Linked DNA regions of Homo sapiens. The main gene of each other region encodes a partner of the protein of the gene in region 2 in a complex. Each region holds a gene or a part of one and is shown on either strand. Other genes may lie near its edges. The genes, in order: NFKB1, KPNA4, RANBP3 and RELA.

The links.
Region 1: the proteins of KPNA4 (region 2) and NFKB1 are in contact, whole or in part, in a crystal structure (PDB 7LFC), measured with the Homo sapiens proteins. Residues at the interface, in NP_002259.1 of Homo sapiens: Arg96, Lys97, Leu99, Ser100, Ser101, Asp102, Arg103, Pro105, Phe133, Trp137, Thr140, Asn141, Ala143, Ser144, Gly145, Thr146, Ser147, Thr150, Gln176, Trp179, Gly182, Asn183, Gly186, Asp187, Asn219, Trp222, Val225, Asn226, Arg229, His230; in NP_001158884.1 of Homo sapiens: Glu357, Glu358, Val359, Gln360, Arg361, Lys362, Arg363, Gln364, Lys365, Leu366, Met367.
Region 3: the proteins of KPNA4 (region 2) and RANBP3 are in contact, whole or in part, in a crystal structure (PDB 5XZX), measured with the Homo sapiens proteins. Residues at the interface, in NP_002259.1 of Homo sapiens: Arg96, Leu99, Ser100, Asp102, Arg103, Pro105, Phe133, Trp137, Thr140, Asn141, Ala143, Ser144, Gly145, Thr146, Ser147, Thr150, Glu175, Gln176, Trp179, Gly182, Asn183, Gly186, Asp187, Asn219, Trp222, Val225, Asn226, Arg229, Asp261, Trp264; in NP_015561.1 of Homo sapiens: Asn114, Tyr115, Cys116, Pro117, Pro118, Val119, Lys120, Arg121, Glu122, Arg123, Thr124, Ser125, Leu127.
Region 4: the proteins of KPNA4 (region 2) and RELA are in contact, whole or in part, in a crystal structure (PDB 7LF4), measured with the Homo sapiens proteins. Residues at the interface, in NP_002259.1 of Homo sapiens: Lys231, Asp271, Arg306, Asn310, Val312, Thr313, Gly314, Thr315, Asp316, Thr319, Lys344, Glu345, Trp348, Ser351, Asn352, Ala355, Glu387, Trp390; in NP_068810.3 of Homo sapiens: Lys301, Arg302, Lys303, Arg304, Thr305, Tyr306, Glu307, Phe309.

What each region holds. Positions count from the first base shown.
Region 1 is NC_000004.12:102,497,425-102,504,358, reverse strand, and holds the start of NFKB1 (nuclear factor NF-kappa-B p105 subunit), read right to left. Parts: upstream 3,001-6,934; 5' UTR 2,571-3,000; intron 2,426-2,570; exon of another isoform or gene 2,187-2,425; intron 1,921-2,186; exon of another isoform or gene 1,873-1,920; intron 1-1,872.
Region 2 is NC_000003.12:160,562,572-160,569,631, forward strand, and holds the start of KPNA4 (importin subunit alpha-3), read right to left. Parts: upstream 3,001-7,060; 5' UTR 2,712-3,000; coding exon 2,643-2,711; intron 1-2,642. UniProt on the Homo sapiens protein: Functions in nuclear protein import as an adapter protein for nuclear receptor KPNB1. Binds specifically and directly to substrates containing either a simple or bipartite NLS motif.
Region 3 is NC_000019.10:5,915,626-5,919,168, forward strand, and holds the end of RANBP3 (ran-binding protein 3), read right to left. Parts: intron 3,014-3,543; coding exon 2,871-3,013; intron 2,356-2,870; coding exon 2,169-2,355; intron 2,029-2,168; coding exon 1,985-2,028; 3' UTR 514-1,984; downstream 1-513. UniProt on the Homo sapiens protein: Acts as a cofactor for XPO1/CRM1-mediated nuclear export, perhaps as export complex scaffolding protein. Bound to XPO1/CRM1, stabilizes the XPO1/CRM1-cargo interaction. In the absence of Ran-bound GTP prevents binding of XPO1/CRM1 to the nuclear pore complex.
Region 4 is NC_000011.10:65,659,910-65,667,612, forward strand, and holds the start of RELA (transcription factor p65), read right to left. Parts: upstream 3,008-7,703; 5' UTR 2,924-3,007; coding exon 2,917-2,923; intron 2,669-2,916; exon of another isoform or gene 2,470-2,668; intron 2,439-2,469; exon of another isoform or gene 2,297-2,438; coding exon 2,270-2,296; intron 2,180-2,269; coding exon 2,028-2,179; intron 1,960-2,027; coding exon of another isoform or gene 1,927-1,959; coding exon 1,778-1,926; intron 307-1,777; coding exon 215-306; intron 1-214. UniProt on the Homo sapiens protein: NF-kappa-B is a pleiotropic transcription factor present in almost all cell types and is the endpoint of a series of signal transduction events that are initiated by a vast array of stimuli related to many biological processes such as inflammation, immunity, differentiation, cell growth, tumorigenesis and apoptosis.

The DNA.
Region 1 (6,934 bases), on a different chromosome or scaffold from region 2:
TCTGATCAATCTGTGGACCAGAAGAGCATAATCTGAGAATTTACTCTATTGGTTATACAACAGTACTGTGCATTTCCAGATACACTTCCTACTGCAGTCAATTCTATACTCAGAATAGCACATCTACTAAGACCCGAAGATGCAAAAGATGACATTTTGAGTACTTCATCAAAAATCCATACAGCAACTCAGATACAATTATTTTACTGTTTGAAAATATCGACTACTTTTCTTACTTCTCCCAAGTTCAAACCAATTGAAGGTTATGAAGTAACCACTTCCCCCCAGAAGCCAGAACTTTCACCTCTTCTGAACAGAGAAATACCTCTCATAAATTAGGTAAAAATAAGGTCTTGCTGATGGAATGATAGTCCAACATTCATGTAGCTGCCAATTCCCTATCTAGACCTCGTATCTACCACAATGAGCAATCCCTGAAAGTCAAGGTAGTAACTTACTTAATCAATTATCTGCAAGTCTAAAAGTGTAGTTAAAACAACCTGCATAAATATTAGTTTCTCAAACTACTTCAATTTGTTTCCAGGAACAGTAACAACAGAAATGTAAGGAATATAATCACTAAATCTAAAATTCTGCCTATTTCAGATTAATTGTGCTTTAATCAACTCAATCAACACAGATCTTGTTTAAGAGGTAGAGTAAAAAGGAAGTGCAAAGATCAAAGCAATGCTTACAAAGGGGAAGGACTATTTTTGTATGTATACCCCCAGTATTTACTATCTGGGTTTGAAAAACACGGGCATTTACTCAGCACAAGTGAGTGCCAATGCCTAACATAAGAATGAAATTTCAGCAAAAAGATAATAGATTTTCACATCACCACCAACCCCTAAAAGGATTATACTACCTTCTTTAAAAAGTCTCAAAGAGTTTAGAAGTGGTTTGCTTTTCACTGCAAGCAGCTTTTCGGTTCCAGTATTAAATGTACATATAACGTGTGTTCCTTTGTGTTCAAGTTTGTCCAGTAGGCTGCAGCCCAGGAAGACATTTTATCTAAACAAGCAGGGGAGGGCATTTAGGAATTGCAGGTGTATCAATATGGATGAATAATCTCAGATTCCAAGTCTCCATTAATCGTACATGTTCTTTCCATTTTAGCAATTCAATTAAATCATGAATGTAAAATTCTACAGGAAACAAATCTTTTTATTTCCTGTCTTCCCAAGTTTATAAACTCAAAAAAGTACATTGCTTCAAATTTAAATACATACATTTAAATACATAATTCCTATAGTGCCTCAAACAGTAAAAGGATTCATCTCTAGAAAGCACAATATTAAAATCAGAAAAACAACATACTTTAGTTTTAAGTTTCCCTTTTAAAGTTTTAACAAACACGAATGCAGTTTAAACTGCTTGACAATATTCAGTTGTGGGATTCTGCTAGAAAAAAATTATTGAATATCTTGACCCTAACCTTTACTATTTACTAAAAGATCACCAGTATGTAGAATATTTTGATGCCAGAGCTATTAAATGTTTTAGTAATACCATAAGCATTTTTTCAGATTATGAGCTTTATAAAAAAATCTTTGAGTTAAATATGGTTATTTCATAAACTGTAATGCTGAAAACCTCTACTTAACAAAGTCCATGAACATGTCAATCTTGATAATTAAATCCTGTATCATTAAGTCCCATTTGAGTTTCAGGATAAACCAGCAAGTCAGGGCAAACATTCCCTGGTGTCTGTTTTTAAGGACCATAGAAAAACTTGCATTTAGGATAGGCCTTGTTTTTACATTATTTTTGTTTCAGCGGTCATGCATAATGCATGGTGGCACTGTCCAAGAGTTTTACATAATCAAGTCTAAAAAGTGCTCTAAGTATCCAGGTAGGTAATTTATTTTCTCTCTCAAATGCCAGGCCCCGGAGGATCAGAATCAAGTCCTATAGCAGGTGACTATATCGTGTGTGTGTGTGTGTGTGTGTGTGTGTGTGTGTGTGCGCGCGCGCGCGCGCACGGAGGGGGGGAGGGGGGAGAGAGAGAGAGACAGAGAGCGAGCCAGGTTTCTTTTAGAAGTAGGAGAGGGATGAATAGACTCTCCTATTCAATTCTGGGGAGCTGGGGAGGGCTTTCCCAGCCAAGAGGACTGACAAGCACTTCTGCTTTCATTTCATGGAACGCCCTTAGGTGAAATCTGGTTCTGCACTGCACCAACCACCTTCCCTCTCTCCTCCGCGCCGCAGCGCACTCCAACCTTCTCACCATCCCCCAGGTGGGGCTGGGGTTGGGGATTTTAAAAGTTTGTAAGAGTTCCCCTCCGGTTCGCGTTCCCGCCCCGCGGAGGGACGTGAAGAGAAATGACCGCCGGGCGGCCGCGGCCCTTCGGCCGACTAGCCCCTGCGAGGTCCGGATGTGTCTTTCCCCGCTGTCGCTAATCCCATGTGCCTCTCAGCTACTGTCAACCTCCTCCCACGGTCTAGCCCAGCGGTTAGCGCAGGAATGAGGAAGTCCGAGTGGGGCTGGAGGGGGTGCGGAGGGCTGGGCGGCAGGACTTGGGCCACGCGTCCCCTGCCGGGCCCCCACTCGCCCGAGTTTGGCTTACCCGGGTGGCGAGTCCGCGTTCGGCCTCCTGGCGCGGGTGGGCTCTCCCTCCTAAGCGGCGCGGGCCTGCCGGCTGGAGAAGGAAGAGGCGGCGGCAGGCCGGAGCCCGGGCGGGCCCGAGTGCGGGTCGGGGCGAGCGGGAGCGCGGCGGGGCCGGGCCAGGCCAGTCAGCGCCGCGCCATGGCCGCAGCGCGGGCGGAGGGAAGCGCAGGGCGCGCGGTGGCCGGGCGGCGGCGCCGCCTTACTGGCCGGGCGGCTGCGGCCTCGGCGGCGCTGGGCTCCGGGAGCGGGGCCGGTGGCTGCGTGCAGGCCGAGGGCTGCGGCGGCTGGCGGCCCGACCGACGGGAAGGGCAGGGGAAGCTGTCAGCGCGTCGCCGGGCCGCTCCGGTGGCGAAACCTCCTCTTCCTGCCCCGGCTCGCTGGTGCACTTCTCTCTCTTTCTGTCTCGCTCACTCTCTCACTTCCTGGCTGGAAATTCCCACTGACGTCGAGAGAGCATACAGACAGACGGACACACGCGCGCACGCAGCGGGGGCGGGAGGTAGGGTCGCTGCCGGGGGTGGGGGAAGCCCGCACTTCTAGGGGCGCTGTGCGCCCCCGGCCCGGCCTTGCCGCTCGCCTCGGCTCCCGCCCCTCGGGGCCGCTTCGGGGCGCCGGGCGAGGGGCGCGCGTTAGGCGGCCTGGACGCCGCGGCCCCTGCGGGGCTCTGGCTTCCTAGCAGGGCGCTCCCGAATCCCAAGGGCTGGAGCCGGTAGGGAAGCCCCCAGGAAGCGCCTGCCGGGCCCAATCAATGGTCGGGGAACGCAGGCAGCACGGAGGCGGCGGCGGTGGCAGTGCCGCTGATAGAGTCATGCGGTCCATAGCCCCTAAGGGCAGGCCCGAGCAGCTGGAGGGTCGGCATGGATCCAAGCATGCCAGATATAAAAATAAAGCTCATCTGTATATTCCATTTAAGCGTGTCTCAGTTACATTCACATCTCTTCACAGATTAAACTACAATTTCGTTATCATAAACGACTTGTGCCCAGTAAAGTATAACCCTCTACTGGTTTTTGGTGCGGTCTTAAATCTCCTGGTTATAGAGCAGTTACTCAGAATGTTCATCTACAAGGCATTGTTAGGCCTTTATGATAATTACTGTGGATAGAATTATAGTGATGGTGGTAGCAATGGTTTTGGTTCACAGCTCATAAAATACTGATCTGGCAGAGGGGAGTTTTCTTTTTCTCTGAAGAGACCGCTACTGGCACCCACTGACAGGCCTCCCAGTGGCCACCATTCACTGGCATCTGAGCTGCTTTAGTGCTGGGCACTGTATTAGGTACAGGCTGGGGATACCTTCGGGTGGATTACCTCCCCACATAAGAAAGCTTGAGCCGAAATATATATTTTAGAGCTCATTGTTTCACTACTGGGTGGAGTGACAACTGAAAGCTTAGCTTTAAAACATCAGTAATCAGGTCCTCACCAGGCAATATTGCAGTGGCATTTAGATTGCTTATGGCATGTTCATCCTAGTCCTTTCGTGCCCACTCTCCATCCTCCTCCTCCAGTAGGTTATAAAAACCTTCTTGGTGGAGTGTTTTTCTGGAAAAAAAAAATAAACAAAAAAAACCCACACACACAAAAACCCAGCGATCCATTTGATTGCCTATGAGGTGAGTCTCCGAGGCGACCTTGGAGGCCCCAACAGTCGACCTTTAAGTGATCTCATTTAGCTCCGGGAGGCTGAGCAGCTGGAATTTAGAGGATCCATAAAGACTGAACACAATGACTTTTTAAGAAATTCTGTGAGCCGGGTGCGGTGGCTCACACCTGTAATCCCAGCACTTTGGGAGGCCAAGGCGGGTGGATCCCCTGAGGTCAGGAGTTTGAGACCAGCCTGACCAATATGGTGAAACCCCATCTCTACTAACAATACAAAAAAATTAGCCGGGCGTGGTGGCGGGCGCCTGTAATCCCAGCTACTCCAGAGGCTGAGGCAGGAGAATCGCTTGAACCCTGGAGGCAGAGGTTGCAGTGAGCCAAGATTGCGCCACTGCACTCCAGCCTGGGCGAGACAGAGCGATACTCTGAGAAAGAAAGAAAGAGAGAGGGAGGGAGAGAGGGAGGGAGGGAGGGAGGTGTGAGCATACACACTCTACTTTTCATTCTGCAAGGGGTGGCAGCCCCATTACCAAAAGATAGATAAATACAATTGTTATAAGAGTAGAGCCAGTGTGACATATTTGGGAGTAAAAAATGAAGAGCGTTAATTACTGAAAAGGATTAAATCAAACTCCAAACTCAAAATGATTCCATAAAATGAACTTAAAATTCAGGGTAGGGTGTTGAGCAGGCATATTTTCCTGGGGCTGCTGTAAAAATTTACCACCGACTGAACAGCTTACAACGGGAATTTATTCTGTCACAGTCCTGGAGCCTAAAATTCTGAACTCAAGGTGCCATTAAGGCCATGATCCCTCTGAAGGCTCTAGGGAAGAATCCTTTGCCTCCTCCTAGCTTCTGGTAGCTCCAGCAATCCTTGCCATTCTTGGCTTGGCTGCAACACTCCATTCTGTGCCTACATTGTCACATGGTCTCCTTCCCCGTGTTTCCTTTGTGTCGCTATATTCAACTCTCCCTCACCTTTCTTTTATGAAGACACCAGTCATTGGATTTAGAGCCCACCCCAATCCAGTATTACCTCATCTTAACTTGATAACATTTGCAAAGATCCTAGTTCCAAATAAACTCATGTTCACAGGTACCTGTGGTTAGGACTTGAACATATGTTTTGGGGGGATGTAATTCCATGCAGCACAGCAGGCAAAACTATAAAAGCTTTTTGGCTTGCTGATTAACCCTCCTCCATTCCTGCTTTGTTACCCAACATTTTCTCTACACTGTACAAACCTGCTTCCAGGAATATCTCTTACAAATTCATCCATCCTAAGGTGTCAGAAGGTATTTGCCATTATCAGGCTACGAAGAGGAAAAAAATGCCTCAATGTGGAATTTCAGACATCAATATTGTCTAAAAGACAAGTTATTTTGTGTTTGTCACTTGTCTTAGTTCATTTGTGTTGCTATGGCAGAATACACAAGACTAGGTAGCTTATAATGAAAAGAGGTTTATTAGGCTCACAGTCTTCAGACTGTACAAGAAGCATGGCACCAGCATATGCGTCTGGTGAGGGCCTCAGGCTGCTTCCACTCAATGGAAGGCAAAGGCGGGTGGTGTGTGCAGAGAGATCGTATGGCGAGAGAGAGGGGAGAGATGCCAAACTTTTTAGCAACCAGCTCTCATAGGAACTAATGCAGTGAGAACTCACTCATCCTCTCCTCCTTGCAGGGAATAGCATCAATCTATTTGTGAGGGATCCACCTCCATGACCGAAACATCTCCCATTAGGCCCCACCTCCAAAATTGGGGTCACATTTCAACATGAGGTTTAGAGGAGACAAATACCCAAACCATAGCATCACTAAATCATTGAAACTACACAAATTTCCCTTCTCATGAAGCTATTTTGGAAATACCAGTGTGGAGAGAATTCTGAGGTTGAGATCTGTGTAGTGTGTTCATTGGCAATGAGAACATAGGAAAAGTATGTCTTCTTTTTAATTGCCTCTGAGTAAAGGTGACACAACACTTCTGCCCACATTCCATGGCCCCACTTAGATGCAAGAGAGCAGGGAACTACAGTTCTTCTGGTTGGTTAGGAGGTTGAAATAGGTCGGCTAAGCATATGGTTAATACCTGCTATACACGTATTCACTTATTTGGTTGTCAGTCATATAAAGTGGATCACCATTATAATCCCCATATTTACAGATGAAAAGTTGAATAATTTTCCTAAGGTTTCATAATTAGTAAATAGAAGGAGAGTCAGGATTTGAACCTAACAGATTTGGCTCCAGTGTGCATGATATTAACCACCACACTAAACTATTATCCAATGATATAAAAAGGAGCATGTAAGAGATTTTTAGAAGATGAGGTCAACAGGACCTGTTTATAGATTATATATGCAGTTTGAGTGAGAGGAAGACTCATAGATAGCTCTGAGTGTTCTAGTCTGAGTGATTAGAATAGTAACACTGTAACTGGGAAAAAATCTGTGGGAATGTAATGCATTCCCACATACCAAACATACATGTAACATGTAAACATACATATTTTAGACATGTTTAGTATGACAGATTTAGTGAGATGTCCATATGGAAATGACTAATAAATATGCAATTGAAAACTCAAGGCTGCTGCTCAGAGAGACATGGCGTTGGAAATGGAAACAACTGCAAAGATGCGATAGTTGTCAGGAGAGTGTTTCTAAAACATTAGTGGTCAAAGAGTTAGGAGACAAGGGGCTAAGTACAGGA
Region 2 (7,060 bases):
TAGACCACTGTACTGTTCTCTAAATATAAAAAAGAATGTTTCTATCTCATTACAAGCATATGTGATTTTGAGTAAGTCACAGTGTGGACAAAGTATGACTTTCTATTAGAATCATATGTTATTTCCTTAGGTGGAAGTGAAAATATTCCTACCCCTAATGTATGCACAAGGATATCAAAGTCATCAGAGGACAACCATAAGGCACTATGAATTTCTAAACAAAACAAAACAAAAAAACCTGGCTAATGTCAATATATACTTATTTTTTAAAAGTCACACATCACAATATTCTTCTAATACAGCCTCAGGACTTAATCTGATTTTGACTAAAGTGCCAAAAGATATGAGGTAGGAGGAAACATCAATTTAAAAAATAAGGATAACTTCAGAAAGTCTGGCAATTCCACCAAAGGTTCAAAGTAAGTTTCCATATGATCTAGCAATTCTATTCCTAGGTATATAGCCAAGAGAAATAAAACATACATCCACACAAAAATGTTCTTAGTAGTATTATGTAAAATAGCTAAAAAAGTGGAAACAATGAAAATGTTCATTAACTGAAGAAGGGATAAATAAAATGTGGTATATCCATGAGCTGGAGGATCATTGGATCATTCGGCCATAAGGATCATTCGGCCATGAAACATTGATACATTCTTGTTACAACACGGATAAACCTTGAAAACATTACACTATGTGAAAGAAGCCAGTTAAAAAAGAGCACAAATTGTACAATTCCATTTATATGGGATGTCCAGGATAGGCAAATCTAAGAAGACAAAAACTGGTTGCCTGGGGCTGGGGTAGTTGGGAATTGGAGAGTGACTGTTAATGAGTACAGGTTTCTTTTTGGGGCCGTGAAAATGTTCTAAGATGGACTGTGGTGATGGTTGCAAAACTGCGAATACACTAAAAGCCACTTTAAGTGGGTGAATTGTATGGCATGCGAATTACATCTCAATGAAGCTGCCAGAAAAATGAAGCCAGAAATGTAGAGGAAAAAAGGGTTATAGGGATCTGTCAAGCACCTAATTGCTATTTTTCTGGATTCTGTAATTTTGTGGTACTTACCAGTTTTTAAGTTTTATCATTTGTGATTTTTTCTCATTCTAAGTATTCATATTAGTAAAAAACATTTTCACCACATTCTTTCATAAACAAGTAAATTTACTGAAAAATCATTGTTATTTAAGAAGCTCATTTTTATGGCATGCAAATTATCTCAATAAAGATGTGACATCTTTGCATTAAAAAAAGGGATCACAATGGTAATATGTTAACCTTAAAAGAACCACAGAATTAACATCCCTGGACACTTAGTCGTCCCTCAAATTATGAAACCCACTAAAACGCTTGAACTACTTTAAAGATAATATTAACAGCTTTGTAAAAAGCCCAAAAAATATCTCAGTCAAGCAGACTCTCAAGTTCAGAAATGCCATGGGAAGTTGAAGATTTCATTATGAAAACGTACCGAGAACAACATAAAAAATACTGCTTGACCACTTTCCCTAAAAGCTAAACTCGTGATTAAGATGCAGAAGGGAAGTATTAAATCTATTTATCTAAACTCTTAAAAGCTGAAGGGAAGAAGTCTTCTATCAAAAATCTCAGTGGGGTGTGTGGGTATGCGTGTGTGCATGTGTGTATTTAACCCATACACCTTATGTAGACAATCTCGGGAGCAGCTGTATCTAAGACAATGAAGCTTTTTTTTTCCTTTTTAAATAATCAAACGTGATGGTGCCATTCCCTAGCCCACCCCATCCCCCACTACCACCACCAGCAGGTGGAGGGAAAGGATACTGTAGACTAGAGGATGACAGCTTTGTATAACCCTTTAGACTTTATATGTAAGAATGCAGCTGGTGGTCTCCTCTCAGGAGGGGGTAAAGAGATTTGTGGACAAGCTGAAATAAGGGGTATCCTTTGCCTGGAAGAGGGCACACCGTGAGCCACATCTTGAATCAGCTATATCCAGAGTAAAACACAGGCCGCTGGAAGGCACTGTTAGGATCACCAGGATGGCCTCTCACGCCGGGGGTGTTTTTTTCAACGGAGAAGTTGTCCTGTAGTTTGGATATTGGGGGGAGGCAGGGGTAAAGCGGGAGTCGGGAAGACCAGAAAAAATGCCTTTAAGTGGAGACGCCTCGGGCCTCGCTGAGGAAGTTCAGAGCCCCACTCGGTCGCCACACGCTCACCCTCCCATTCCCACCGCCCTCCTTCCCGCGGCGCCAGACGTCGGTGCCCGAGCGAGAGCCGGAATCTCCGCCACTGCCGGGGAAGGGGCCGCGGCCCGGCCGGGGCAGCACCGGCCGCACACGCACGCCTCCTCCGCACGCGCCGCGCCCGGCCTCCCCGCCGCGCGGCCCGGCCCCTCGCACCCGCGCCGGGCCGGCTCCGCCGGGCAGGCCTAGGCCGCGCCGGCCGTACCCGGGCACCTCGCTCCCCGGCGGAGGCGGAGCAGGCCCGACATAAACTTCCCGGCGCGCTAGCAGAGGCGTCACAGACGGGCCGGCCCCTAGCGCCATTCCCCGAGGCCTGGAGGCGGCTCCCGCCCCTAATCCCCACACTCGGGGTCCCGGCGGAGACCGGCCCCAGGCCCACAGCCCCCACCCCTCCGGCGTCGTCCCCGAGTTTACCTCCAAGTCGCGGCCTTTGTTCTTGAAATTCTTGAGCCGTTGGTTGTCCAGTTTCTCGTTGTCCGCCATGGCCGGGCCGGTGACTCCTTCCCCCGCCCGGGCCCCGCGGGATCCGCCCCAACCAACGCGCCGCACCGACACTCCCAGGAACCGGGCCGCCGCCTGAGCTGCTGTGCCCGCCGCGCCGCCGCTTCCTTCCTCCTCTCACCTGCCTCCGCCGCGGCCTTCTCCTCTCCCCGCCCGCCCCCCCGCCCTAACCCCAGCGCGACTGCAGCTCCGGCAAAGACAACTGTGGGGCCGGGCGGCGGCAAGGCGACGGAATGTGCTGCCGGCTGAGAGGGGGAGGCAGCCTCGATCTGAGGGCCCCGGCGCTGCGGCCACGCCCATCGCCTCCAGCCCGGCTCGCCCATTGGCTAACCAGGCTCCGGTGCGTTCGACCAATCAGAAGGGGCGATGGAGAGCCGGGGCGGAAAGAGCGAACGGAAAGGGGAAGCGAACGACGCTGGGAGGAGCCGGCTCCGGGCCCGGAGGGGTGCGGCGGGGGCAGGCGGGGAAGGACCACGTGCCTTCGGAGAGAGGGGTTGGAAGCAATAGAGAAGTAGACTTAAGGGGAAACCAGCAAGGGGAAGGAGAGGCCCGGGAACGCAGCAGGGCGAGTTGTTTTGCTCCACTCGTCCAGGAAGCCCTAGATGCCGGGGGTTCAGGGTCGAGGCTGCGTTAAAGTAACGTTCTTTTCTCCCCGGGCGCGCCCTGTCTTCCTGGGCATTCCTTGCGCTCTCCGTTCGCTTTGCAGAGAGATCTGAGCTTCGCTGTCTCCCGGTCGGACGCTCGCAGCTGCGTTCCCGGGCTGGGGCTCCGTGCCGTCCAGGGCCGGGTCTGGGGGCCAGGACCTGCTGGGATGACGTGAGTTGAGGAGGCTCAGCGGAAAGCGACAGGAAAGGTGGGTGGAAAAGGAAAGGGCCCATTAGACGAATCTGATTCATCTTCTGTGACTAAGCACCCGCAACAGTTAGGAATTTAGGCAGAGCTGGTGATCCTGGGACAATAGCACTTCCTAGGTAATTCGTCTTAAAAAGTTAAAGAAGCTGCTTGACCACAAAGTATGAACTTCTGGAGGGCGGGGCCCGTGGCAGCTGACAGGGAATATTGTGTGTTGAGAAAGGAAATGAGTTCCAAGGATACCAAGGACAACGTTACCAGAGGCAGAAATGACACGAGATACAAAAGAACGTATTCAAAAATTTAACAAAACAGAAATGGAAAATTATTTTAAAATATATTGAAATATCAACGAATAACACCTCAAATGTACAGGGATATGTAAAGCAGCAACTCGGGTCGGAAGCAAGGAATCGAGGCGTTGGGTGTGTTTAAACTTGACGAGGTAGGGAGAAGAGACCCTGATACAAACTCCTTCAGAATCGTTGACTCTCGGTCCTTTCTAGTATATTTTTTTAGTAGAACAACGTGCAGATAAGTGTTTAAAATGCAGATCTTCCTAAGGAAACACTTTTAAAGGCAACAGAGGGGAATTTTTTTTTAAGTTAAAATGGAAGAAGTTAGTGGGTTTAACAGATATGAACAACTGAGTTTCCTTTGGGGGAGAGGCAATGAAAAGAGCCGGAGTACTTTAGGGATCACTTTGGAGAGGATATTGTAGTGGGGGAAAGGAAGGTAAAAACTTAGGAAGCAGAGTAGTACCTTTAAAGTCGTCAGTACTTTATATACCATCAACTGGGCTATGGACAACAGAAGCTGTGCCTGGAAATAACTCACACTGAAGGTTAACTTGAATATAAATTTAGAACAGATCTTAAATACAAATGATGATGTTCATTATAAACTGTTATTCTTCAAAGACTCATTTAACTGAAGTAACATTGTATTTGCATACCAGAGCACTGGTGTTTTTCAAAATGAGTTTAGGATAAGAAAATTCACTTGAAAAGCTGGAGTATGTATGTATTTTGCGCCATCATGGATTTTATCATAAGCAGTGTTCAAGAAAACAAATTACCAGCGAATTCCCACCCTATGAGTAAAAGTTATCTTGTCAACATATCAATAGATGAACATTTTGTACTTCTTGGAATACATTTCATGGTAGCTTTCATGATGAAGTTTATAGACGTGTCTGTTATATGTCTTCATGTCTCCAGCTACAACTGAGTGTCTCTGATGATTAAACAACAACCCGAGTTTTCTCTCTGCAGAAGACTCCTAAAAAAGAGTTGTAATTAGTTACCAGCTGAGAAAGATGCAATACAAATAGGAAATAACCGCAATTTATAATTTTATTTATCTAAAATCTGTCTTCCTCCCTAGACAGTAAGCTCTCTGAAGTCAAGAACCATAGTTGTTTTGTTCACTACTGTATACTCAGCACCTAATAGTACTTGGCACATAAGTACTCAGGGACTATTTGTCAAATGCAAGAACATATGCCCCTAAAGCAGAAGTCAGGAAAACCAGAAAAAATGCCTTTAAGTATTACAGAAATGCCACAGGCCTCCACTTAAATTGAAAAGCAAGCTAACCCCTCTTGATAAAAATGTGGATTGAGATCAAGAAGCAGCTTCTCTGCTCCTTCTGGAATCTCCACCTGGTTTAGCCTGCTGCCTCCACTCCTGCCTCCACCATGTCCATCAGGGTGATCCAGAAGTCCTACAAGGTGTCCACCTTTGGCCCCCAGGCTTTCAGCAGCCACCCCTACACTAGTGGGCCCAGTGCCTGCACCAGCTCCTTGAGCTTCTCCCTAGTGGGGAGCTTCACTGTGCAGCTTCTGGGGTGGCCTGGGCGGAGGCTATGGTGGGGCCAGCAGTATGCGAGGCATCACCACCATCACGGTAAACCAGAGCCTGCTGAGCCCCCTTAACCTGGAGGTGGACTCCAACATCCAGGCTGTATACACCCAGGAGAAGGAGCAGATCAAGACCCTCAACAACAAGTTTGCCTCCTTCACAGACCAGGTATGGTTCCTGGAGCAGCAGAACAAGGTGCTGGAGACCAAGTGGAGCCTTCTGCAGCAGCACAAGATGGCTGGGAGCAACATGGACAACATGTTCGGGAGCTATATCAACAACCTTAGGCGGCTGCTGGAGCCAGGAGAAGCTGAGGCTGGAAGCGGAGCTTGGCAACATGCAGGGGCTGGTGGAGGACTTCAGGAACAAGTATGAGGATGAGATCAATAAGCCTACAGAGATGGAGAATTAATTTGTCCTCATCAAGAAGGATGTGGATGAAACTTACATGAACAACGTAGAGCTGGAGTCTCACCTGGAAGGGCCGACTGTATGAAGTGGAGATCCGGGAGCTGCAGTCCCAGATCTCCAACATGTCTGTGGTGCTGTCCATGGACAGCAGCCACTCCTGGACATGGACAGCATCATCACTGAGGTAAAGAGGCAGTACAAGGAGGTTGCCAACTGCAGCCGGGCTGAGGCTGAGAGCACGTACCAGATCAAGTATGTGGAGCTGCAGACGCTGGCTAGGAAGCACAGGGATGACCTGCGGCATACAAAGACTCAGATCTCCAAGATGAACCGGAACATCAGCCAGCTCCAGGCTGAGATTGAGGGCCTCCAAGGCCAGGGGGCTTCCCTGGAGGCCACCATCCCAGATGCTGAGCATCGTGGGGAGCTGGCCGTTAAGGATGCCAATGCCAAGCTCTCCAAGCTGGAGGCCACTCTGCAACGTGTGAGTACCAGGAGCTGATGAAAGTCAAGCTGGCCTGGAAATGGAGGTCGCCACCTACAGAAAGCTGCGGGAGAGCTAGGAGAGCCAGCTGGAGTCTGGGATGCAGAACATGAGTATCCATACGAAGACCACCAGCGGCTATGCAGGTGATCTGAGCTCGGCCTATGTGGGCCTCACAACTCGTGACCTCAGCTATGGCCTGGGCTCCAGCTTTGGCTCTGGCACAGGCTTCAGCTCCTTCAGGTGCACCAGCTCCACCAGGGCCGTGGTTGTGAAGAAGATCGAGACCCGCGATGGGAAGCTGGTGTCTGAGTCCTCTGACTTCCTGCCCAAGTGAACAACTGTGGCAGCTCCTCCTAGTCTGCCCCTCCCGTGGCTGCCACAGACTCCAGGAGGGAGGCTGCTGTGTGGGGAAGCACAGACAACAGGAGACCCCCCACCTGAGGCTCAACCCACCCGTGGGGGAGTTTACTGTCTGGGGACCCCCCTTGCCCATGCTTCCAGCTAGAAAACAATTGTGGTTTTTTTTTTGGTCCAAAATAAAACCTCAGCTAGCTCCACCACAAAAAAAAAAAAAAAAATTGTGGATTGAGTCGTTATTGCTTCTAGTTTACTGAGTTCCTTCTATTTATATAAATTCTTGATTTGATATCAAGCTCATTCTGGGGTGAAAGTTTAGGGAATAAATCAGACATACATTTCAGGGCAAAACCCCCTATGTA
Region 3 (3,543 bases), on a different chromosome or scaffold from region 2:
CCCGCACCCGGACTGCTGCTCCCTGCCCCTCCCTTGCGGGTCCCCCAGGAAGCCAGGTGACCCCAGGTGGGAGGCTGTGTGTGGAGGCCATCCTGGAAGGAAGTTTAGACCTGCCCAGGTGTGGAGCGAGGGGCACAGGGGCATCCTAACCTCAGAAACTGAAATAAAGCCTTTGAAAAAAAAATCTGTAAAACATCAACCCCCAATCAGAAGATGGCAAATGGGGAATAAAAATAGCAGGTAACATGTCCAGCGGGCCCAGTATCTACATTCTGGTGAGCGGCCCGAGGCTGGGAGCTCTGGGCGGGGGCAGACCGGCGGGGCCTTGCAGCAGGGGTGGGGGTAAAGTGCGGGTGGTGGTGGAGAGAACAGGGCTGTGGCTGGACCCCAGCACTGGTGACACGCTGGGTGGGAGCATGAGGCCCCAGGCTGCTGGAGGTCCTCGCCCGGGGAGGTGGAGGCCGTTCCTGGTCAGGGGCTTCCTGAGGCCCCTGGGGCATGCAGAGGCCAGGGTTTTAGTTAAAAGTTTAATGTAGTTCCCAAATACATTTCATATGACAATCTTACATAAATGTTCCAAAACACATGGGCGTTATCTCGTTGTACTCGTCACTAGCTGGCTAAGGCTTAAAGCAGAGACGTGTGACTGGGTCTCTCGGGAGGGCCTCTGGTTCTTCCCGGGCTCAGGCTTGCTGGGGGCTGGGGGCCAGGGCTCTGGCGACCTAGAGGTGTGGACGGCACAGCTGCAGGAGGCCTTCTCTTAACCCTCCGAGAGTGGGACTGGGAGATTTCCTCTGAAGTCCCAAAGAGGCCCTGTGCCCAGGGGACCTCCTCCTCGGCCTCCCAGGTGGGTGGTGCAAGCTGGCTCTTGGCCATGCTCCAGGCTCGGGTGGGCACAGGCGTCCACTCCAGTGTGCTGCGTGCTTGTGAGACTGCCTGTTCTGGGACCAGCCCCTGGGCTCTTCCACCAAGATTTGGTGAGGGTCCCCCTCTGCCTCTCACAGAAGCCCCTGGCCCTGGACTGTCCTGGGGGCAGGGACACCTGTGGCTGGGGAAGGGATGGCCAACAGCGGGAAGCAGTTTGCGCCTGGTGCCTGATGATGGTGAACCACGTGACAGATGGAGACGGGAGTCAGGGGACCCTGGGGACCCTTCCAGGTCCAGTGACCTTTTCCCAGACAGGCACTCTCCAGGCCTAGGACAGACAGGGCCCCAACTCCTCATCACCCCATGACTTGGCCTGGAGGAACCTGGGGTGGGAAACAAGTAGTCCCCCAACCTCAGAGGCCAGAACCACAGGTGGGGGACAGGGACCTCGACAGAGCTGTGCCTGCTCAACGCTCGAGAGCATCTTAACCTAAGAAACCAAAACAAAGCCTTCGAAAATAAAAAGAAAAAAAGATGTAAAATATACACCCCCAATCAGAGAGGGGAAGTGGGAAATGAAGATAGTAGTTAACAGCACGTCCAATGGGCCCAGTGTCTACACTCGTACGAGCAGCCCCCCAAGCTGGGCGGGGGTCCCAGGCCTATAGTTGGGGAGCCCTGGGCAGGGGCAGAGGGCTGGCTGCTCCCCACAAAGGCAGGGCCCCACAGCAGGGTGGGAAGGGTGTGGGTGGCGGAGAAGCCAGGGGCTCTGGCTGGACCCAGAGGCTGGCGACACGCGGGGTGAAGGAACGAGGTCTCCAGTCCCAGTGAGAAGCCGTGACAAGTCTTAATGTGCCATTTCAATTCAAAGGAGGGGAGGGAGGAAATGTTCTTGTTTGTTCGCTCATCAATATGATGAGGTCTCGTGTCCCAAACCACATTCAGGCAGTTCCCGAGTCTGCTTTTGAACAGGACGTGCGGGTCCAGACTGTGGCCGGCCCAGTGGGGTGTGTGGTTCCCGGCCCCGCACCTGGACGCTGCCGGTGGGGTGGGGGCGGGTGGGCGGGTGGATAGACGGACAAAGCAGCAGCCTGGTGTGCAGCCGGGCTCCCGGCCGCTATGTGCTCCCGGTCGTCTGCCCGTCCCCTTCGTCACCAGCACCTGCAGGGAAGCAGCAGCCCCGCATCAGGATGGAGCCCGCACTTCCCAGGTCTGGCCACCCCCGCCAGGAGATCAGCACTGGATCAAGGATGGCGGGCAGCTCTTTCTATCCCCCCCAGGGTAGGGACCACCCGACTCACCAGCTGCGGTGGCCCCTGAAGGAGCCAGGACATCGTCATCGTCGCTGTCGTCCTCCTCGTTGGATGGGGCTGCCCCAGGCTCAGGCGCGGGCATCTTGGCCTCCTGCTCCTGCTCCACGCGGCTGCGCAGGGCCAGGATGCGGTGGTGCAGGGCTGCATACAACTGACCTGTGTCCTTGGAGCTGGCCTGGGAAGGGAGGAGGGTATGAGACCCCCGGACCCCAGTCCTACCCCCTCCTGCCTTCTGCAGAACACAAGTGCCAAGTCCCAAGGTTCAGAGGTGACACTGCCACAAGGCCTTGTGGGGAGGCCATTGGCCCTGGGCCTGCCGGCCTCTCCCCGAAAGGATGCCACCACTCCCAGGTGGCTGGGAATATCCCAGAGGTCAGGGTTGGTGGACTCGACTGTGACACCATGACATAGGAGAGAGGTGACCGCCCCACAGGGCTGTTAGCCCTGAACACATCACAACCCCTCAGCCAAACCCCAGCGGCTTCTCTGGGTTGAGAAGAGGACAAGGACCATGATCTCTATTCCTGAAGGCTGGGACTGGCGGGTCCCATAGTGCTTCTTGTGTCCCAGGAAGCAACTGAAGCCCCTCCCCCCTCCCCTCCCCACCGTCCTGCCTGATCTGTGTGCCCAGGAACCCCCACAGGGCTGGCAGGATGAGGGGTCCCAGATGCACCCGCGTGGCTGGCTCACCGAGATCAGGAAGACCTTCACGCCCTGGTCCTCGGTGTCCATGGCTGTGATGCGAATGCTCTTCTCGCTGGCCTTGTCGATCTGCATCTGGGCCCACAGCTTGGTGTTGAGGATCAGTCGCAGGCTCCCCTGGGTCCGCATCACTACAACCAACAAGGCCACTCAGCCCTGGCCCCCACACCGGCCCCCTCACAAACAGCCAGCTCCAAGAGCCAACACAGTCCAGATGGAAAGCGACATCACCGCGCAAAAGCCCATGATCCTCCCAGGACCCACCCACAGAGCAAGACTTCTCCCTGAGGCCAGCCCTGGCACACCTGCTCCCGGGGCGGGGCTCCTCCTCCCCAAGCCTGGACCACTGAAGGCCACAACTGCAGGTGGCTGCACAGGCTGGTGCTGCAGATCAGTGACCAGAGGCCACATGCAGCTTGTGGGAGGTTGTGTTTGGTCCACACAGGTGGGCACCAGGATGGCAGTTCCCTTGGAGAAGGGGGGATTAGAGAGGAGTACGGGGTGGGCTGCGGGAGGCAGGGGCTGACACTCAAGGTGCATGCGCTTTCTGTGTGTGTGAGACATCGGCCTCCATGGGAGTCCACGTCCTCCTGACTGGCCTCCCCTGAGTGGGCCAGCCCTGCCCTCTGGTTTCCTTAGGAGAAGGCAGAGTAGGACCGCA
Region 4 (7,703 bases), on a different chromosome or scaffold from region 2:
GTCCTAGAGGAGGCAGAACCCAGCACTGACTCCACTGTGGCCTGAATGTCATGTCCCCTCCTGGGACTCAGTTTCCCAGTGGTAAAGTGGGAGAGTACTGAATGGGCACCAAGATTCCAGCTTTACTGTGTCTTGGCCAGTGAGGGAGATGCAGGAAAGGCGGGCTGGGGAGGGTGACAGAGGGTGCGGGTGTGGCAGGCAGGTTTGCCCTCACCTTGGAAGGGGTTGTTGTTGGTCTGGATGCGCTGACTGATAGCCTGCTCCAGGTCCCGCTTCTTCACACACTGGATTCCCAGGTTCTGGAAACTGAGCGCCCCCAGTCGTCTGTCCCACTGTCTCTCACAGAGCCCAGACCTTCCTGCCTTGCCCAGCCTGCTCCTTCCTACTCTGCCCACCCCTAGATCATCGCTCCATGCCTAACCCTCTCCAGTGGCTTCCTACTGTGCTGCAACGAACCCTGTCCCTTCACTCAGCTGACAAGCACCTCCGTGCCCCTGCCCCTGCCAGCCTCCCTGTGGGCTCCCTGCTTACAGCCACCGGGGCTCCTTTTCCACTCTCTAAACACAGGACACTCATTCCCACCTCAAGGCCTTTGCACTTGTTTGGTCGGCTTGGAATGTTCTTTTCCTACTTCTCTCCTCCTTCTCACCATTCAAGTCTTAGCTGAGGGAGGCCTTCCCTGACCTCCCAATCTAAAGTCATCACACACCAGCTCCCCTAACTCCCCCACCCCAGGTTATCCTTCTATCCTATGACCTCGTTTTATTTTCAGGACTGAAACTGTTACTCTGACAGCACCTTGTTTATTTATCTGTGTATTTATTTATTTTTAAGAGACACAGTGTCGGGCCGGGTGCGGTGGCTCAAGCCTGTAATCCCAGCACTTTGGGAGGCCAAGACAGGCAGATCACAAGGTCAGGAGATTGAGACCATCCTGGCTAACACGGTGAAACCCTGTCTCTACTAAAAAATACAAAAAATTAGCCAGGCGTGGTGGCAGGCACCTGTAGTCCCAGCTATTCGGGAAGCTGAGGCAGGAGAATGGCATGAACCCGGAAGGTGGAGGTTGCAGTGAGCTGAGATCGCGCCACTGCACTCCAGTCTGGGGACAGAGCAAGACTCTTTCTTAAAAAAAAAAAAAAAAAAAAAAAGACAAGGTATCGCCCTGCCACCCAAGTGCAGTGGTGCAATCATAGCTTGCCGCAGCAGTGACCTCCTGGGCTCAGGCGATCCTCCCACCTCAGCCTCCCTGGGACTATAGGCGCATGCCACCATACCCAGCTAATTTCTTATTTTTTGTAGACATGGGGTCTCACTATGTTGCCTTGGCTAGTCTTGAATTCCTAGGCTCAAGAGATCTTCCTGCCTTGGCCTCCCGAAGTGCTAGGATTATAAGCATGAGCCACTATGCCCGGCCTGTATATTTTTTTACAGCCTGTCTCTGTCAACTGCAATGTCAACTCCAGGGGAGAGTGCTGGTTCAATGGTTTTCTTCCTCAAACAAGAGACGTGACTCTGAGGGACTTGTCCTTCCAGCTACAGGGGTCAGGAATTCAGAAGTGATTAGGGACCCATCCGTATCCCCTGGAACTCATCTGCTAGAGTAAACGTACAAATAGATAATTTCAAGACAAAGGCAGTTTACTTGCAGAGCTGAGTCAGGGCAAGGAGTGAGGAATTCTGCCCTGGGTCCAGAAAGGAGTAACACTGTAGCGGCTACTTCATAGCCCGCCTCCTGTCCCCTCATGCTGGGCCTCCTAGCCTGCAGGGACCTCACCTGTGGATGCAGCGGTCCGGGCAGAGCTCAGCCTCATAGAAGCCATCCCGGCAGTCCTTTCCTACAAGCTCGTGGGGGTGAGGCCGGTGAGGAGGGTCCTTGGTGACCAGGGAGATGCGCACTGTCCCTGGTCCTGTGTAGCCATTGATCTGTCCAAAGTACAGAGGCCCAGACATCCAAACCTGACTCCCAAACACAGAGGGCTGGGGTTCCACAGTCCCTTCCCCGCACACCCTGGCGCAGTGCTGACCTTGATGGTGGGGTGGGTCTTGGTGGTATCTGTGCTCCTCTCGCCTGGGATGCTGCCCGCGGAGCGCCCCTCGCACTTGTAGCGGAAGCGCATGCCCCGCTGCTTGGGCTGCTCAATGATCTCCACATAGGGGCCAGAGGCCTGGGCTGGCTCTGCCAGGGGACACCGCAGCCCCATTAGGCGGCTGCCCCCACTGCCCTACCCCAGGGAGCACCTCCCCGACCGCCGCGGGGGCCACTTACCTGCCGGGAAGATGAGGGGGAACAGTTCTGAAAGGGGAGGGAGATCAGGGTCAGCACACACCCAATGCCCATTCTCACAAGGAGGAATCTGCTCTCCACGGAGAGGAGAAGCCAGGCTCCCTCCCAGGGGAACTGAGTCAGGACCTGCTCCCTAGAACCTGCGGTGAAACTAAGGGGTGGAGGAAAGGAACCAGAAACACCTGCTTCTTGAGGGAAAACGGGGTAAGGAATCCTTCTTCTCCAGAGGGAAGCTGAATCAGGGCCTGTTGTACTTTCTTAAGGAAAATTGAGGGAGGGCACGCCCCACCTCCCTCCAGAGAGGAAACTGAATCAGATGCGTTCTCCCCTAATAGGGAAACGAAGCCAGAGCTGCCCCCATGGACGGTGTGGAGGGAAACTGAGTCAAGGTTCCCTCTGCTCCCCCACCCAGGGAGGATGCTGAGTCAAGGGCCACCCCCTCCACCCAGAGGGGAAACTGAGTCAGACCCCTCCCCGCCTGCCCCGCCCCGCGCCACCATCCGGCAGGCCGACCGCTCCCTGCGCAGCGCCCGTCGGCGCAGGAAGGGGCGGAAAGCGGCGCGGGGGCTCCCGCCACAGCCGCGGCGGCCCCGGCGATGCCACCCCGCGGGGTCAGAGGGCGACCTCACCGTCCATGGCCGGGGTCCCGGGGGCGGGGCCGGGGTCGCAGCTGGGCCCGCGGCGTGCACTACAGACGAGCCATTCGCCAGAGGCGGAAATGCGCCGCGCGGCCCGCCGTCGCGTCACTGCCCGGAATCCGGCCGCGCCTGCGCGCTGCCCCGCCGCCGCCCGGCGCAGGGGCCGGGAGCAAGTGCACGCCGCGCGGAGGACGAAGAGGCTGCACGCACAGCCGCTGCCGGGGGTCGGGGCCAAGTGCGCGCCTCGCCGAGGACGAAGAGGCTGGCGTGCCCGGTGGCTCGGCTAGCTCCCGGGTCCCGGCCCCGCCTGGAGGGTGGGTCCGCCGATTACTCACTTTGTTTTTAGGGGATTTCAGGGCCCCCTCCCGCCGATCGGCGGAGTTTGGTGATGTCACTCTGGGCCGGGTCTGGAGCAAAGCCAGGGCTACTGGGCTGCGGCCGCCCGCCCCGCGCAGGGAAAAGCCCGACCGGGCCTTCTGCTCCGCAGAGGCCGGGTGGTTGAACTCCGCGCGGGTTTCCTAACCGCTAAAGGTGCCTTTCGGTGGTGGCTGTCTCAGAAGCACGTTAAAATGTCCTACCCACCCCAATCTAGATGCGGCTGTGGGGGAATGGGAGCGGCCGGACCTCCCAGCCTGACAGTGCATCAAGAGCTTTGCGGAGCCTACAGCCCGGATGGGACGACTGAGGCCCTCCCGCTGGCGAGCTGGCCGAGGGCTCGTCCCTCTCCAGCTAAAGCGCCAGCTTACGATACAGCCAAACTGCCGGCTCTCATCGGCTGTGGGAGCAGGAGGCCCCCAGGGGTAAATCCCGGAGCCTCGTCTCTGAAGCCTGGCGCTTGTGTCTCAGAAGGTGCGGGACCCACAGGGACACTTGAATCAGCAGGCTCACGACCCCCCACCCCCCTGCCCCCGCCTGTGTTTGCCCTGGACCTCCAGCTAGGGCTGACCACTAATTCTGTCATGTGACCCCACAGTGCAGGTAGCTCCCCCAAGACCAAGCCCAAGGCGCGTCCGTGTGGAGGCTGGGGCTGACGCACCCCCACCCCAGGCCTCATCCCCAAAGGAGGATGCTCCACTGCAGGGGGCGGAGTCTTCTCCAGATGGAGAAAGACTTTTTTATTTTCTCTGAATTCGTCTTAAATTAGGAAATCATGTGGGAATTGGAAAAGATTGGAAATTCTGACTTGTTTCCCAGGCTCTGAAGAAACAGGAAGAGAAAAGTGAAAATAGAGTTAGCACCCCGCCCACTCATTTCAGTTTCTCCAGTGGCTGGCCCTGATTAGAAAAGTGTTTACTTTTGGCAGGGGGCGGGGGAGGCCGACTTCAGGTGACAGAATGGATTAATTAAAATCTTTGGTTAATGATATACAATTATCATTGAACCTTGCATGGATCCTCTTCTTAAAATTCATGTATATTTATAACTTTTAAATTAATACGATAAACACCCATGTACCCATTGCAAAACTCAAGGGGCCACCACCATCCAGAATTCTGTATTGTATTGTATTGTATTGTATTGTATTGTATTGTATTGTATTGTATTTATTTATTTATTTATTTTTTGAGACACGGTCTGTCTCTGTCGCCCAGGCTGGAGTGCAGTGGCACAATCTCTGCTCACTGCAGCCTCTACCTCCTGGGCTCAAGCAATCCTCCCACTTCAGCCTCTTGCATAGCTGGGACTACGGGAGCACACCACCATGCCCGGCTAAGTTTTTGTATTTTTTGTAAAGAAGTGGTTTAACCTTGTTGTCCAGGCTAGTCTTGAACTCCTGAGCTCAACTTTCCTCCCCGCTTGGCCTCACAAAGTGCTGGGATTACAGGCGTGAGCCACCACGCTGGGCCAGAATTCTGTATTTTTTAAATTAATTAATTAATTAATTTATTGTAAATAGAGATGGGTCTCACTGTGTTGCCCAGGCTGGTCTCAAACTCCTGGGCTCAAGCGATCCTCCCACCTCAGCCTCCCAAAGTGGGATTACAGGCATGAGCCACCACACCTGGCCCAGAATTCTGTATTTTAAAGAAAAAAAAAGTTATATCTGCATGCCTACACAATATATCTTTTGGTTTTCCTTAGTTTTGAACTTTTTTTTTTTTTTTTTTGAGACAAAGTCTCACTCTGTCGCGCAGGCTGGAATGCAGTGGCATTCTGCTTACTGCAACCTCTGCCTCCTAGGTTCAAGCGATTCTCCTGCCTCAGCCTCCTGAGTAGCTGGGATTAAAGGGGCCAACCACCACGCCCAGCTAATTTTTGTATTTTTTTAGTAGAGACGGGGTTTCACCATGTTGGCCAGGCTGGTCTCGAACTCCTGACCTCAGGTGATTCGCCAGCCTCTGCCTCCCAAAGTGCTGAGATTACAGGTGTGAGCCACCGCACCCAGCCAGTTTTGAACTTTTATGAAGAGGGCATCATATGATTTGTTGTCCTTTGTTACTTGCTTTTTTCACTCAACCTGTTACTATGATTCATGTTTCACAGTTAATTCACTTTTTCACTGCTGTATACTATTTTGTTGTGTAAATATACCACAGTTTGTTTATTCATCCTGAAGATAGGCATTTTTATTTTTATTTTTTTGAGATGGAGTTCCTCTCTTGTGGCCCAGGCTGGAGTGCAATAGCACCATCTCGGCTCACTGCAACCTCTGCCTCCCAGGTTCAAGTGATTCTCCTGCCTTAGCCTCCTGAGTAGCTAGGATTACAGGTATGCATCACCATGCCCGGCTAATTTTGTATTTTTTTTTTCTTTTGAGACAGAGTTTCGCTCTTGTTGTGTGCAATGGCACAATCTCGGCTCACAGCAACCTCTGCCTCCCAGGTTCAAGTGATTCTCCTGCCTCAGCCACCTGAGTAGCTGGGATTACAGGTGCCTGCCACCATGCCTGGCTAACTTTTTGTATTTTTAGTAGAGACGGGGTTTCACCATGTTGGCCAGGCTGGTCTCAAACTCCTGACCTTAGGTGATCCACCTGCCTCAGCCTCTGAAAATGTTGGGATTACAGGCATGAACCACTGCATCTGACTAATTTTGTACTTTTAGTAGAGACAGGGTTTCACCATGTTGGCCAGGGTGGTCTCTAACTCCTGACCTCAGGTGATCTGCCCGTCTCGGCCTCCTAAAGTGCTATTACAGGCGTGAGCTACCGTGCCCAGCCATGGGCATTTGGACTTCTAATTTTTTGCTGCCATAAGCTTTAGAGCACTGAGTAATATATAAAAACAGCAATCATGTAGTTTTTAAAACTTAGTCTGGGGTTAAAGAAGTATGTAAACAACTATGTTTTCTTAAAGATTTATAGGAGCATTGTGACTGGACCAAGGACAAAGAAGTTCCCAACCTCCTCAGACCCTCGCTGCTGCCCAGATGTCTGCCATGGGGTACTTCTTGACCACACCCTCCTTCTCTTCCCTGCCCTTAACATAGAAAGAGCCTAAGATTGTACTGACTTAAAATGGTACTTTAGAACGCTAGTACACCGTCCTCTCAGTCTTGCTGGCTTTCAGAATAAATCAGTAAACCTACTTTTTCTCCCACCAACGCCCCTATCAGTTGGGATCCTCTTACCTCGGCCTCCCAGGTAGCTGGGACTATAAGCACTCACCACCACACACAGCTAATTAAAAAGAAAACAATTTTTTGAGGCAGGGTCTCACTCTGTCGCCATGCTGGAATGCTGTGGCATGACTCGTTGCTCACTGCAGCCTCAAACTCCTGGGCTCAAGCAATCCTCCCACCTTAGCCTCCCAAGTAGCTAGGACTAACAGCGTGCACCACCACACTCAGCTAATTTCTTTTTTTTAATTTTTAGTAGACACAAGATCTTGCTATGTTGCCAAGGCTGGTCTCGAACCTCTGAGCTCAGGCGATCCTTCTGTCTCAGCCTCCCAAAGTGTTAGGATTACAGGCATGAACTACCAAACCCGGCTGAGTTTTTTAAAATCTTAATGAATGCATGGATTTAAATATATTAGCTGTGTTTTAATCAAGTATAGTTATTGAAATTCAAATTATTCGTCTTTGGTTAGGGAGAACTTCTTCAAGTTGGTTGTTCTTCAGTCCTTTTGACACAATTCCAATATATGAGTCTTGGTGGCTCATACCTGTAATCCCAGCACTTTGGAAGGCTGAATGGGGAAGACTGATTGAGGCCAGGAGTTTAAGACCAGCCTGGTCAACATGGCAAGATCCCTATGTCTATTAAAAAAATAATTTTAAAAAAGCAATTACAGTAGCCTGTGATAGCTTCTTTGCTGTTTGGTATGAAAAGATATTTCTTTTCTTTTTCCTTTTTTTTTTTTGAGATGGAGTTTCGCTCTTACTGCCCAGGCTGGAGTGCAATGGTGCAATCTCGGCTCACTGCAACCTCTGCCTCCCGGGTGCAAGCAATTCTCCTGCCTCAGCCTCCCAAGTAGCTGGGATTATGGGAGTGTGCCACCACGCCCAGCTAATTTTTGTATTTTTAGTAGAGATGGGGTTTCCATATTGGTCAGGTTGGTCTCGAACTCCTGACCTCAGGTGATCCACCTGCCTTGGCCTCCCACAGTGCTGGGATTACAGGCATGAGCCACAGCGCCTGGCCTGAAAAGATATTTCTAGACTCATCTAGTAAATTTTCTGCCCCAGATCTGGAATCAGACAGCTTTCCAAGGAGTCCTGATTTCTCTTAGTAGGAAATGATATTTAAAGACTACAGCTTGAGTACTTCGGATACTTATTGCTACTGAGTCAGTCATTGTAGATGTTTTCGGTGAATAGTTAGTACTTTTTTTTTT